Homo sapiens: one gene and its partners. The protein of the gene in region 2 purifies or fractionates together with the protein of the main gene of each other region. This does not show direct contact. Each region holds a gene or a part of one and is shown on either strand. Other genes may lie near its edges. The genes, in order: GINS1, EIF5A2 and GINS2.

Evidence for each region.
Region 1: the proteins of EIF5A2 (region 2) and GINS1 purify together in Homo sapiens (affinity purification with mass spectrometry; one large-scale study listed by BioGRID and IntAct). This does not show direct contact.
Region 3: the proteins of EIF5A2 (region 2) and GINS2 purify together in Homo sapiens (affinity purification with mass spectrometry; one large-scale study listed by BioGRID and IntAct). This does not show direct contact.

Annotation. Positions count from the first base shown.
Region 1 is NC_000020.11:25,414,107-25,417,832, reverse strand, and holds part of GINS1 (DNA replication complex GINS protein PSF1), read right to left. Parts: intron 730-3,726; coding exon 631-729; intron 1-630. UniProt on the Homo sapiens protein: Required for correct functioning of the GINS complex, a complex that plays an essential role in the initiation of DNA replication, and progression of DNA replication forks.
Region 2 is NC_000003.12:170,887,896-170,891,841, reverse strand, and holds the end of EIF5A2 (eukaryotic translation initiation factor 5A-2), read left to right. Parts: 3' UTR 1-3,424; downstream 3,425-3,946. UniProt on the Homo sapiens protein: Translation factor that promotes translation elongation and termination, particularly upon ribosome stalling at specific amino acid sequence contexts.
Region 3 is NC_000016.10:85,686,155-85,690,178, forward strand, and holds the start of GINS2 (DNA replication complex GINS protein PSF2), read right to left. Parts: upstream 2,801-4,024; 5' UTR 2,745-2,800; coding exon 2,655-2,744; intron 1,421-2,654; coding exon 1,306-1,420; intron 1-1,305. UniProt on the Homo sapiens protein: Required for correct functioning of the GINS complex, a complex that plays an essential role in the initiation of DNA replication, and progression of DNA replication forks.

The DNA of each region.
Region 1 (3,726 bases), on a different chromosome or scaffold from region 2:
ACCCAGCCTGGAGTGCAATGGCACGATCTCCGTTCACTACAACCTCTGGCTCCCAGATTCAAGCAATTCTCCTGCCTCAGCCTCCCAAGTAGCTGAGATTAGGCACCCGCTACCACTCCCAGCTAATTTTTGTATTTTTAGTAGAGACAGGGTTTCACCATGTTGGCCAGGCTGGTCTCGAACTCCTGATCCCAGATGATCCACCCGCCTTGGCCTCCAAAATTGCTGGGATTATAGGCATGAGCCACTGTGCCTGGCCAAAGGTCCTTATTTCTAAGACAAAGAAAAAATAGTAAGAACACTACCGTATTCAGTAGTGAAAGACCGTGATGCACTTAAATAGTGTGGCACCAACAAGTGAAACACGATGAAAAAAATATGGCAAAATAATAAAAATTGTTAAAACCATATGATAGCTCCACTGGGGTTCATTATAGTATTATTCTCCCTACTTTTAAAAGTGTTGTGATTTTTCATAATAAAAAATTAAAAAAATGAAAACACAGAGGAAAAATTTAGAATGCTTACAAAGAGAGAGAGATCTAAGATTTCATGTTACCCATTTGAGATGGTCAACTGGGAAGCCACACAGAAAATCCTGCCACCCCAAGCAAAAACTGAGAAGCTTACAGGTATGCTACAGTGCAGCGTCGATTTCTTAACAGAGAACAGTGTCGAAATTTGATAGTTGGTATCAAATCACTTCGTCCACCTGACTTTGCTTCATTCCTGATAGGAGCATTTAAAAAGAAAAAAAATATGTACTTTTCAGGATAAGTAAAATTTTCAAAGCCAACTAACAACTGAGTTACATGCTTGTTTTTAATCCATTTGTGATTAGCAGTTAACCTAAGCAAATAATAACTATTTGTACATCAGAGCTTTTATTAATATGTTAAAAAGCCAAAACCTAAACAACTTGCCTAAGATCATGCTACCAGATACATTTTGTTTAGGCATTTGGTACTTTGCATTTTTGCACACTGATTAATCTCTATTCTTTCTAAAAGACACTGTGTTATTCACTTTTCAGGATTCCATTATCACGCTGAGATAAGAGACAAAGCTAACATGATGGACATGAGGTTATGGTCTTACGTCATGTCGCTATTCTACATAGTACCTCCCTTCCAGTGGAGCTTCCAAATCCTCATTATAACAAAGTGAGGTAAAATGGAGTCAAAATGGTCTTTCACTCATCTTACAAATATCTGTTGATCTCCAAATACGTGTACGTACTATACTTCAGTATTTCTCACACTGAAAATTTTGGTTTTACCCTATAAAAAGTACATGTAACTTTTGAATGAATAAGAATCTACTTTGGAGTTTTTAAGCAACCATATGCATATAAAAAGAATTCATTCATGTAGTGCCTGCCTCTATGCCAGGCACTGTGCTAGGCCCTGATAATACAGGCAAAATACATGTCCCATCCTGTCATGTCTTCTAGGGCTGTTCTATATACTTCTGCCACCCTATGAAAGTCTGATGAAACTAGGAAGGTGGAATAAAGAATTTTGGATCATGAATTTGCGAATGGCATAAACACAGAGAATACAAGAAAATCATTCCCTTACTGAACCAAGGCCTATAGGGTCTCCTCCAAAACATTTATAACCTTCTCACTTTCTACCAAGTCTGGGTCACCTCTCTAGTAACCTGGTGACCAGCTTCCCCCACCTCTCAGCCCCTCCACACAGCAACCAGCATTATCTTTTAAGACACAAACACACCACCACCTGTCCACACTTACACCTCATCTGGTGTCATCCTTTGCCACTTGCCAAACTCCAGCCACATAGGTCTTCTTTAAGTGTCAGTTTCTTGAGTGCCCCATTCTCTTCCATGATTCAGGGGCTTTTGCATATGCTGTTCCCTCCACCTAGAATGTTCTATGCCCACAGTCACTGCCTCCCTAAGACTTGCATCTCCTGCAGGCCTCAGCTGAAATGTCTCCTCTTTGGAGAGAAGTTCCCTGATTCCTCAATTTAAGCTAGACCTTCTATTCATTTTTCTTTCTCCTTGCACTCTTCTGATTTCCTTCATAGCATGAATCCCAATTTGGCATATCTATATTTCATGTCTGTCTTCTGCACTAGACAGTGAGCGCCAGGGACAGGCATCTTTTTTTTTTTTTTTTTTTTGAGATGGAGTTTCGCTATTGTTGCCCAAGCTGGAGTGCAATGACGCGATCTCGACTCACCACAACCTCCGCCTCCCAGGTTCAAGCGATTCTCCTGCCTCAACCTCCGGAGTAGCTGGGATTACAGGCATGCGCCACCACGCATGGCTAATTTTGTATTTTTCGTAGACAGGGTTTCACCATGTTGGTCAGGCTGGTCTCGAGCTCCTGACCTCAGATGATCCACCCGCCTCGGCCTCCCAAAGTGCTGGGACTACAGGCATGGGCCACACTGTGCCCAGCCCGGGAAAGCCATCTTGACTGTTGTTTACCACTGAAATAGCACAGCCACTTATTGATACATATTTGTTTAGTACATATTTGAGTAAATCAATGAATGGCTTAGGGACTTGAGTTCAGGACTTTAAATCTGCCTTATATTTACTGCAAATCTGTTGAGGTTCACTTCCTCAGTCCACCTGTAAAGATTTTTCTGTATCTCTCCTTATACACAGGAGTTGGAAATGCTCCTATCATTTTATGTGCCTCACAAATCTTACCAGCCATAACACTGATTTCTATATTCAAGTAACTGATAAAAACACTGTAGCGAACAAGCCCAAAGAGGAAACCTCATGTCACAGACAGTTGAGACCCTGAATACTTCAACTTTGATCCAGTACTTGACTCCCTTTGGTGTCGCACAGGAACATACGAAGTTTGTCATACGCCCAAATTCTCCACTGTGCCAGCTACCATGCTCAGTTCTAAAGAGTCAATAAATCTAGTCACCTCTCTGGACCTACTACACTGAAACCTTTTATAGCTAGTTCTCAGAGAACTCCACTCAAACTATCAGAAATCACTGCTGCTCCTATTTATATCCATTTAATAAACTGCCTATTCTTCCTTTAACAAACTCACTAAGGCAACTGTTGATAAAAATATAAACAGTGGGAACCATGTATTTCACTTTGTTAGGTTTTTATTTTTATTTATTATTTTTAAAGATGGAGATCTCCTTCTGTCACCCAGGCTAGGGTGCAGTAACGTGATCATAGCTCACTGCAGCCTCAAACCCCTGCACTCAAGCAAGCCTCTCACCTTACCCTGCTGAGTAGCTAAGACTCCAGGTGTGTGCCACCACACCCAGCTAATTTTTATTTTTTTAATAGAGACAGAGTCCTGCTATATGTCCAGGCTCCTGGCCTCAACTGATCCTTTTGCCTTGGCCTCCCAAAGCACAGGGATTTATAGCCATGAGCCACCGTGTCCAGCCTATTTTTATTTTTTATTTTAGGGTATGTCATTTATTTTAGGTCCACTCTAATTCCTTTCAACTCTTATCAGCCAAACAACAGATATTTATTAAGCAGTGATCAGCACAAATTTCTTCAGACTTTTGCTAATTTGTACAGCTAGAGCAGATAATTTTACAGATAATTTTTAAAAATCGCATCCCAAAACTAATGCAAGGTTATCTGATTTCAACATCTTTTTTTTTTTTTTTTTTTTTTTGGAGACAGAGTCTTGCCCTATCGCCAGGCTGGAGTGAAGTGGTGCAATCTCAGCTCACTGCAACCTCCACCTCCCGGGTACAA
Region 2 (3,946 bases):
TGCATTTCTATTTCATCTTTTGAGTCATATGTATATTATTTCCAGAATTTTAGACATTATTACAGGGTTTGTGAGGACCTTTGACTCAGTGACAATCATCATATTGGAGCAAAACATAGAACAAAATCACTATCTCAGAAATACCTTAATTCTCTAAGACTGGCTCTTAGACCTCTCCCATCATGCCTTGACCTCTAAAAAGCCCTTTGTTCCTATCTTCTAAAGGAAAGTATATCATATATGATGATGTAACTGATCTAATCAGTGACTGGAAATAGCATTAGTAACAGAAGATCCCAAGTTTTAGTTGCTTAATTTGTACACACTTTTAAATATTGTCTTAGCCTCGGCAAACCAATTTGGGGAAGAAGCAAGATACTTTAAGAGAAATACAAAGGAAATTTCTAAAGCACAAGAAATAGTGAGGTAGTAGTTAGTCGTCTTTCCTACAACATTTTAGCTTTTGCCCATCTAAAGCACAATTAAAATTAGGCTACATTCTTTCCAGTATTCTATTTAAGTACCTACTACATACTGCTCTAGTTTCTTAGTACTCTGTAATGTGTATCTTAATTGCTACTGGTTGGCATTGTAACTCATAGGAATTCCAGAAAATTATTAATCCGTGCTGCTTGCAGTTCATTCATATGGCCCCTCTTAACCATGCTGGTGTTATGATTCAGTATTAACTCTCAATTAGCATGCCCCTGTTCTTCCTAACTTGTAAAATTTCACATAAATATATTTTCAATTGTGTACAAATTAAGGGTGTACAAATTATAATAATGCATCTCTATCTTCATACTTTGAATGGCAAACGCTATTTATGCATAAATATTTTCATTTTAAGTAATATATGAAGTGTAAATACTCGATATATAAGTATAGATTTTAAAGATATGGGACTTTATTTTCACATAAGTCAATAGATGTTTCTCTAGAACAAAATATTTAGTAAAGCTTTATAAATTATATTAAAAGGAAGCGGGGAACATGTATTTTTTAACATAGAACAGAAGTGACTTCATTCTTTTTAGACATCAGAAATGTTAAAGTTGATTCCCAATATTTGTTGTACTTTTTTGTAGCAAATGTTAAAAATCACGAGTTACCATGTATAGAATGTGGACTGTCATGTTGATATCATTGTACAGTGATAAGCCATTTTTATCTGTATACATTTCACCAATTTATTAACAGGTTGAATATTTGTTTCTTTTTAGAACATTTTATTTATACTGTGAAGACTTTGTTATACCTTATTTGCTACAACATAGATCATATCATTGCTACTTTGACTTAGCATTTGCATCATAAACATAATTATGATGTTTTTTTCATGCTCCCTTCCAGGGGCTCAGTCACTTGAAGAAACTGTTGCTAACCAAGCTCTTGACTCTGTTTCCCTTAATGATACAAGTCTCTGTACCAGCGCTTTATGTTAATTACCAAAACTCTCCTGCATCAGAGCATGATATCTATAATAGGAGATACTGCAATAAAATGATTAGGCTGTAAAATTTGGAGACACAATTTTTCATTACAATGCAATTTGCATGTGCACATGTGCGCACATAACTTTATATGTTAGTTCTTTTTTCCAAACTCCCAACTCTTAAAAGTATTGTAGTCTGTTGGTGCCTCAACTGTTGGTAACTTTTTTTTTTTAAATTTACAACTTTCCACAACTTGTTTTTGTACTTTAAGGTTTCTCAATTAGAATATTTCTAGTTGAGCTGTAATTTGAATGCATTGTTCTCAGGGCTATTTGTGCTAAAAGCTGAAATTTCATTATTTTAAAGCTAATTGCCTGAAAATATATTGGCAGAATTTTCCCAAATTGTAATAACTGTGATACATGCATATAAAAAAATCCTTAATGTCAACACACTTAAACTACATGCTAAATAGTCAAGAAAAAAATGGAAACAGTAGCATCCATACTGGAATCTTGCCATATTTTTTTCATTTTAGAATAGATTTTGGCAGTCTCATCTTAGAATCCTATCCTTAGGATACATCTGAAAGCATTCCTTTGGCATGGACCCCAGAGATAGTTTTGGAGCCAGGCATTGATGTAGAGGTTCACCAAACATATTTAGGGATAATAGATAAATTCATAATGCTTTTTTGGGTACACTGAAATGTTTACATACTGAATTCTGTAATATGAACTAGGAACGCATTTACTATGAGAAAATATGGCTCTTAAGCAGTGTAAGAGTGAAAATATAAGCATATTTCCATTAACAGTATATTGTACTGATCAGCAGCTCTCATTTTAACATCAGTTAGGCATAATATTTCATAGTTTTCAAGCCTTTTTTTTCTGCTAACATTCAGACAAGTAACAGGCAACAAAGATTTAAGAAAAATTTATGGTGGAAAACCTTAAAAATTGAGACAATTCAATCTATTTAATCTATTAAATTTTTTCTCTGAATTGGGTATATGGCATCATTATTTGATTTTAGCAGGGAACATTTGGATTTAGCTTATGAAACACAGATGTTCTATGGGAACATGGCTTGAAGCCAATATGTAATTTAATGTTTTTCCATTAAACAAACATCTGAACACCAACTTAGCTACCAAGTGAGGTCAAGTGCCTGAAAAGTACTGTATACATCTAATAAGCATGTTTTCCTTATGTAAAAGATGCACTTTATGGCAATGCATACCAGGCTTTCACCTGCTAGAAACATACTTGTTGCCAACTTTGCCATCTACCACTATTCTCCTCCTTAGAACAGGTAGAAACCTATTTTACAAAAAAAAAAAAAAAAAAAAAAAGACAGGTTATTGTATTTATATGAAGTCCCTAAAACTGTTTCTTGGTATTGATAGACTTAAGTTTATCTTAGTTCAAGATTGCACTTTTTAAAAAACTCTGGACTATTTTCAGCAATGACCGAACAGCTTGTCACACATCATAGTTGTGATCTTTTTTGAGGAGTTATTTATTGTGGTTAATATCTACTATAAATAAGCATTCTTGTGCTTGTTACAAAGCATAATGCAAATTACTAGTTCTATACTAGTATAATGAAAATGACTAGTTCTATACTGTTATGTACTTTTGTCTTCCTCCCCAAAAAGGAAACAGTTTAGCATTGTCTAAATTCAGTGGCACTTTTTTAGTAATACATTTTTTTTTCTTAGATACAGGAGAACTATTGCTTTTACCTGCAGAAACTCAAATGTTTTCGCTAAAACTTTAAAATTCTAAAATACGTAGTATGGGTATTACTAATTGTACATTTTACATTTCAAAAATAGTTAAAATTCAAATGTTAAGTCTTTGACTTAAAAAACCTTTAAATATAGATAATACCTTAACAATTATAACTTTGTGATATTATTAAAATATATTTGTCTGTTAACTTCATCAGTTGTATTAAATAAAAATAGTTAACAGCTTGCACTATTCTTGTACATATACATCTTTAAAACAATTTCATACCCAAAAATTGTATGACTTAAGCGTATGTCACTTTAAAAGAAAATCTAACTTGTTTTTATTGAGTACTTTTATATTCTAGGTCCTTACGTAGTGCCCTCGCATTATGACTGGGACTATTAATTTCTAAATTTTAGTTTGAGGTTTAGGTACAATTTTATTTTTAAATGTTTAATGTTTTTTAAACTATATAAAATAGTCACTTGGTTCAAAATTCAGCAGGTACAAAAGACTAAAGACATTTTCCCCTCTTCATCCCCTTCCTATGTGTCCTTCCAGAGATATTTAATGTAGGAGAGGGCAATGCTACTTCCCTCACCCCTGATTTCCCAGGGTGTGAGGTGTTTCTTTCCTACAAGCTGGGGTTGCTTTTCCCTTTCCACAACATGAGTGGTGTGATAATTCCCTGAAGCAAACGCTTCACCCTTTTGCCAATCCTCACCATGTCTAATCCACACCAACTGGACATGTTCATTTCTAGGTGGC
Region 3 (4,024 bases), on a different chromosome or scaffold from region 2:
TCAGCCATTTAAAGTATACAAGTTTTGAGGTGGGTGGATCACGAGGTCAGGAGATTGAGACCAACCTGGCTAACACGGTGAAACCCAGTCTCTACTAAAAATACAAAAACAAAATTAGCCGAGCGTGGTAGCGGGCGCCTGTAGTCCCAGCTACTTGGGAGGCTGACGCGGGAGAATGGTGTGAACCCAGGAGGTGGAGCTTGCAGTGAGCCGAGATCGCACCACTGCACTCCAGCCTGGGCGACAGAGCGAGACTCTGTCTCAAAAAAAAAAAAAAAGTATACAAGTTTTAGTAGCACTTGTGGGCTATTAAAAACAAAGTGTACAAGTCAATGGTGTTTAGTATATTCAGACTTGGGCAACCATTACCTCCATCAATCCCAATTTTCATCATGCCAAAAAGAAACTCCACAATCCCTCCATCACCCAAAGCAAGACCCCCATACTTAAGCAACTACTAATCTACATTGTCTCTATTGATTTGCCTATTCTAGACAGTTGATAGAAATGGAATGATACAGTGTGCGGCCTTTTGTGCCTGGTTTCTTTCATTCAGCAAGATCTTTAAGATGTTTCAGGTTCATCCACGCAGTAGCATGTATCAGAATTCCATTCCTTTTTATAGCTGAATAATATTCAACCTTATTGTGATATATTATTTTCATGCATTCTCTATAACTGCTTCTCAACATGCTAATCTATACTTATTTTTAAAATTTTAAAACAAATGCTTATTTAAGGTCATATATTTATTTTAAAGCAAATTGAAATATCTTACATTAAAATATAGGCTGGGCACAGTGGCTCACGCCTATAATCCCAGCAGATCTGCCAAGGTGGCCAGATCGCTTGACCCCAGGAGTTTGAGACCAGCCTGGGCAGCATGGCAAGACCCCATCTCTACAAAAACGCAAAAATTTGCAGGGTGTGGTGGCGCACGCCAGTGGTCCCAGCTACTTGGGAGGCTGAGGCAGGAGGATCACTTGAACCCAGGAGGTGAAGGCTGCATTGAGCCGAGATTGCACCACTGCTCTCCAGCCTGGGTGATGGAGTCAGACCCGTCTCAAAAAACAAACTACAACTTTCACACACACCAAAACCTAACATGACATTACTAACAGTGGTTAGCAGACTCTGCTGAGAGGTGAATCTGGAAGTATTCCTTTCAGCTGATCAGTAGATAACGGAACAGAGGGAGCACGGACCTAGTCAGGAAGGAGGCCCCATGCCTCCACCCCGTGGGAGAGGGCGTCACCCCAAGCCCAGCCCCACCCACGCATCAACCAGTCTCCACCACATCCTTACCTACATCCATCCACTCTGGAGGGAGCAGGCGACATTTCTGTCTTTGTTTCAGGTTAATCGCCAGCCACAGGGGCACTTCCACGGGTAAACCAGGGTTAAAAGGCCCCAGGTCCCCCTGCCAAAAGTAAAACAATTCCCCGTAAGATTGAAAAAGAACAAAAAAAGCATTACTGTGCGTTACTGCTATCAAATAAGAGGCAAGGCATTGCAGAGGCTGAAGTCCAAATGCAAATAATAAAAACCCAACTGTTACCAGACTCAGAACAAAGCGCCTCCTGAGCGGCTCCGAGACACCTGCGAGCGTGGGGCTCAGTCCTTCTGGCCTTTCCGCGGACAGGATGCAAGTCTCCCCTGAGTGGGTGGGGGGCGCTCCCTCTCCCGCCTGCACCCTCCAACTCCGGAACAGGTTTCACACACCCAATGTTGGGGTCCTGGGGTGCGGGGAGGTGGGTCTGGGCAGGTACAGAGCCTGCCCTCCTTCTCCAGGACTCCCAGCGCCGAGGCGCCTCCCTCATACTGAAAACGCAAAGCCGGGCGGGCGCGGGGGCTCACAATCCAGCTACTCGGGAGGCTGAGGCAGGAGAATCACCTGAACCCGGGAGGCGGAGGCCGCAGTGAGCCGAGATCGCGCCACTGCATTCCCGCCCGGGCGATAGAGCGAAACTCCATCTCAAAGATAAAGACAAAAACAAACAGAGGCAAAGCCGACTTTTGCCCATAATCCCAGCCCTTTGGGAGGCCGACGTGGGAGGATCGCCTGGGGAGCCCAGGAGTTCGAGGCCAGCCGCATCTCTACCAAATAAATAAGCCGGGCGCAGTGGCTCCCGCCTGTCATCCCAGCACTTTGGGAGGCCGAGGCGAGTGGCTCATGAGGTCAGGAGTTCGAGACCAGCCTGGCCAACACGGTGAAACCACATCTCTACCAAAAATACAAAAATGCGCCGGGCGTGGTGGCGGGCACCTGTAACAGCAGCTACTCAGGAGGCTGAGGCAGGAGAATCGCTTGAACCCGGGAGGCGGAGGCTGCAGTGAGCCGAGACGGCACCACTGCACTCCAGCCTGGGCGACAGAGTGACACTCCACCTCAAAAACCAAAAAACAAACCAAAAAAGCCCCCAAACAGATCAAAAAAACCCTGTAAACCCGGGCGTTCGGGGCACTGGCAAAGAGCGCAGTCTCGCTTTCCTCATCCGAGAAGCGGGAACGGCGGTGAGCGAGTCAAGCGCCGAGTGGTGGCCTCCGCAGATGCGGGAGCAGGGCGAGCCCGCGACCCCGGGGCTGAAGGCCACGCGGGAGCCCCGGACGCGCCCAGCCCGGCCTCCCCTCCCCACGGCGGGCCCAGGCCTCACCCCGATGAGGTAGATCTTGTCCAGACTGAAGTTGGGGATAATGGTAACCAGCTCCTTCTCGGCGAGGAATTCGACCTCGGCAGCGTCCATGGCGGCGCGAGCTGCAGGCCAGAGCCTCACGGTCTCCTCGGGCCCCTCAGCGTCCCGGAGGAGACGCCGCGGCCGCCGTTTTCCCGCCACGGCGAGAGCCCGCCCCGGCCGGAAGACGGCCTGCGCCAGCCTATAGGAAGGCGGTAGACAGCCTATAGGCGCTGTCTGCGGGCGGGGGGGCGGAGACCGCGCTCGCGAAGAGCCCGCGGATTGGCAAGGCCGAGGGAGGCTGCGCGCCGGCCCCGCCCCGGCCCGCGGACAGGCCCCGCCCCCACCCCGGCCCCGCCCCGCCCGTGGGCGTGCACCTGGCGCTGTCAGGATCTCCTGCCGCGGGCGCCAGCTTTGGTGTCCCTTCACCTGTCCCCGGCGCCCGCCGCAAACGGCCCTAATCAAGAGCCGGGGGTGGGGTTCCGGGCCGCTTCTACGCCGGCGTTCCGCATGGGGCCAAGAGTAAACGCATTTATTTTATTTTAATTTTTAAACAACTTTTCGTGGATTTGGGATCTTGCTGTGTTGCTCAGGCTGGTCTTGAACTTCCGGTCTCCAGCGATCCTCCCATCTCGACTTCCCAAAGTGCTGGGATTACAGGTGGGAGCCATCGTGCCAGGCCAAGAGTACAAGCATTTATTGGCCCAAACTCAGCACCGGGCCCGGGACTAGGCATCACCCGGGCTGACAGATAGAGGGATGAGGGAAGACCTTGTTTCCATTAATTTCACAATCTTCTGCCCTCTCTGCACACATTGTTTAAAACAGCTGTAAAAATGCAGATTCCTCCATCCCACCCCACAGCTTCCAATTCGGACACTTCAGAGCAGGAGCTCAGAATTTGCACTTCGGCAGGAGCCCCACATGAGACAGGAGCGGCAGGTTTGCACCACCTGAGCAAATACTCACCTGCTCGCTGGACCGGCTGCCCCTGTACAGTGGGCGCAGGTGAAGCCAGAGCGGTGGCTGGAGCTCACCTGTGTCAGAATCCCCTAGCGGGTGCCCATTGTCTGTGTGCACGCTCCTGGGAGTTGGGATTCCGGAGTCGTGGAAAGGACAGAAAGCTGAATTTCATCCAGGGCCAGGTGATTTTGATGGGGTGGTCATGGCCGGAAAAGCTTCCTGGGGGTGAAGCGCTATTCTAGGACTGCAGTCGAATTTGAAACCTTGATAATTAGGCCCGCGAGAAAAATCACAGGAGACATGAGGATTCCAGGGTTTGGAATTCCAGCAGAAAGCACCCCCTGCCCCCGCCCCAGCTAACCGGATGCTCTCCTCTCCAACCTCCCTGA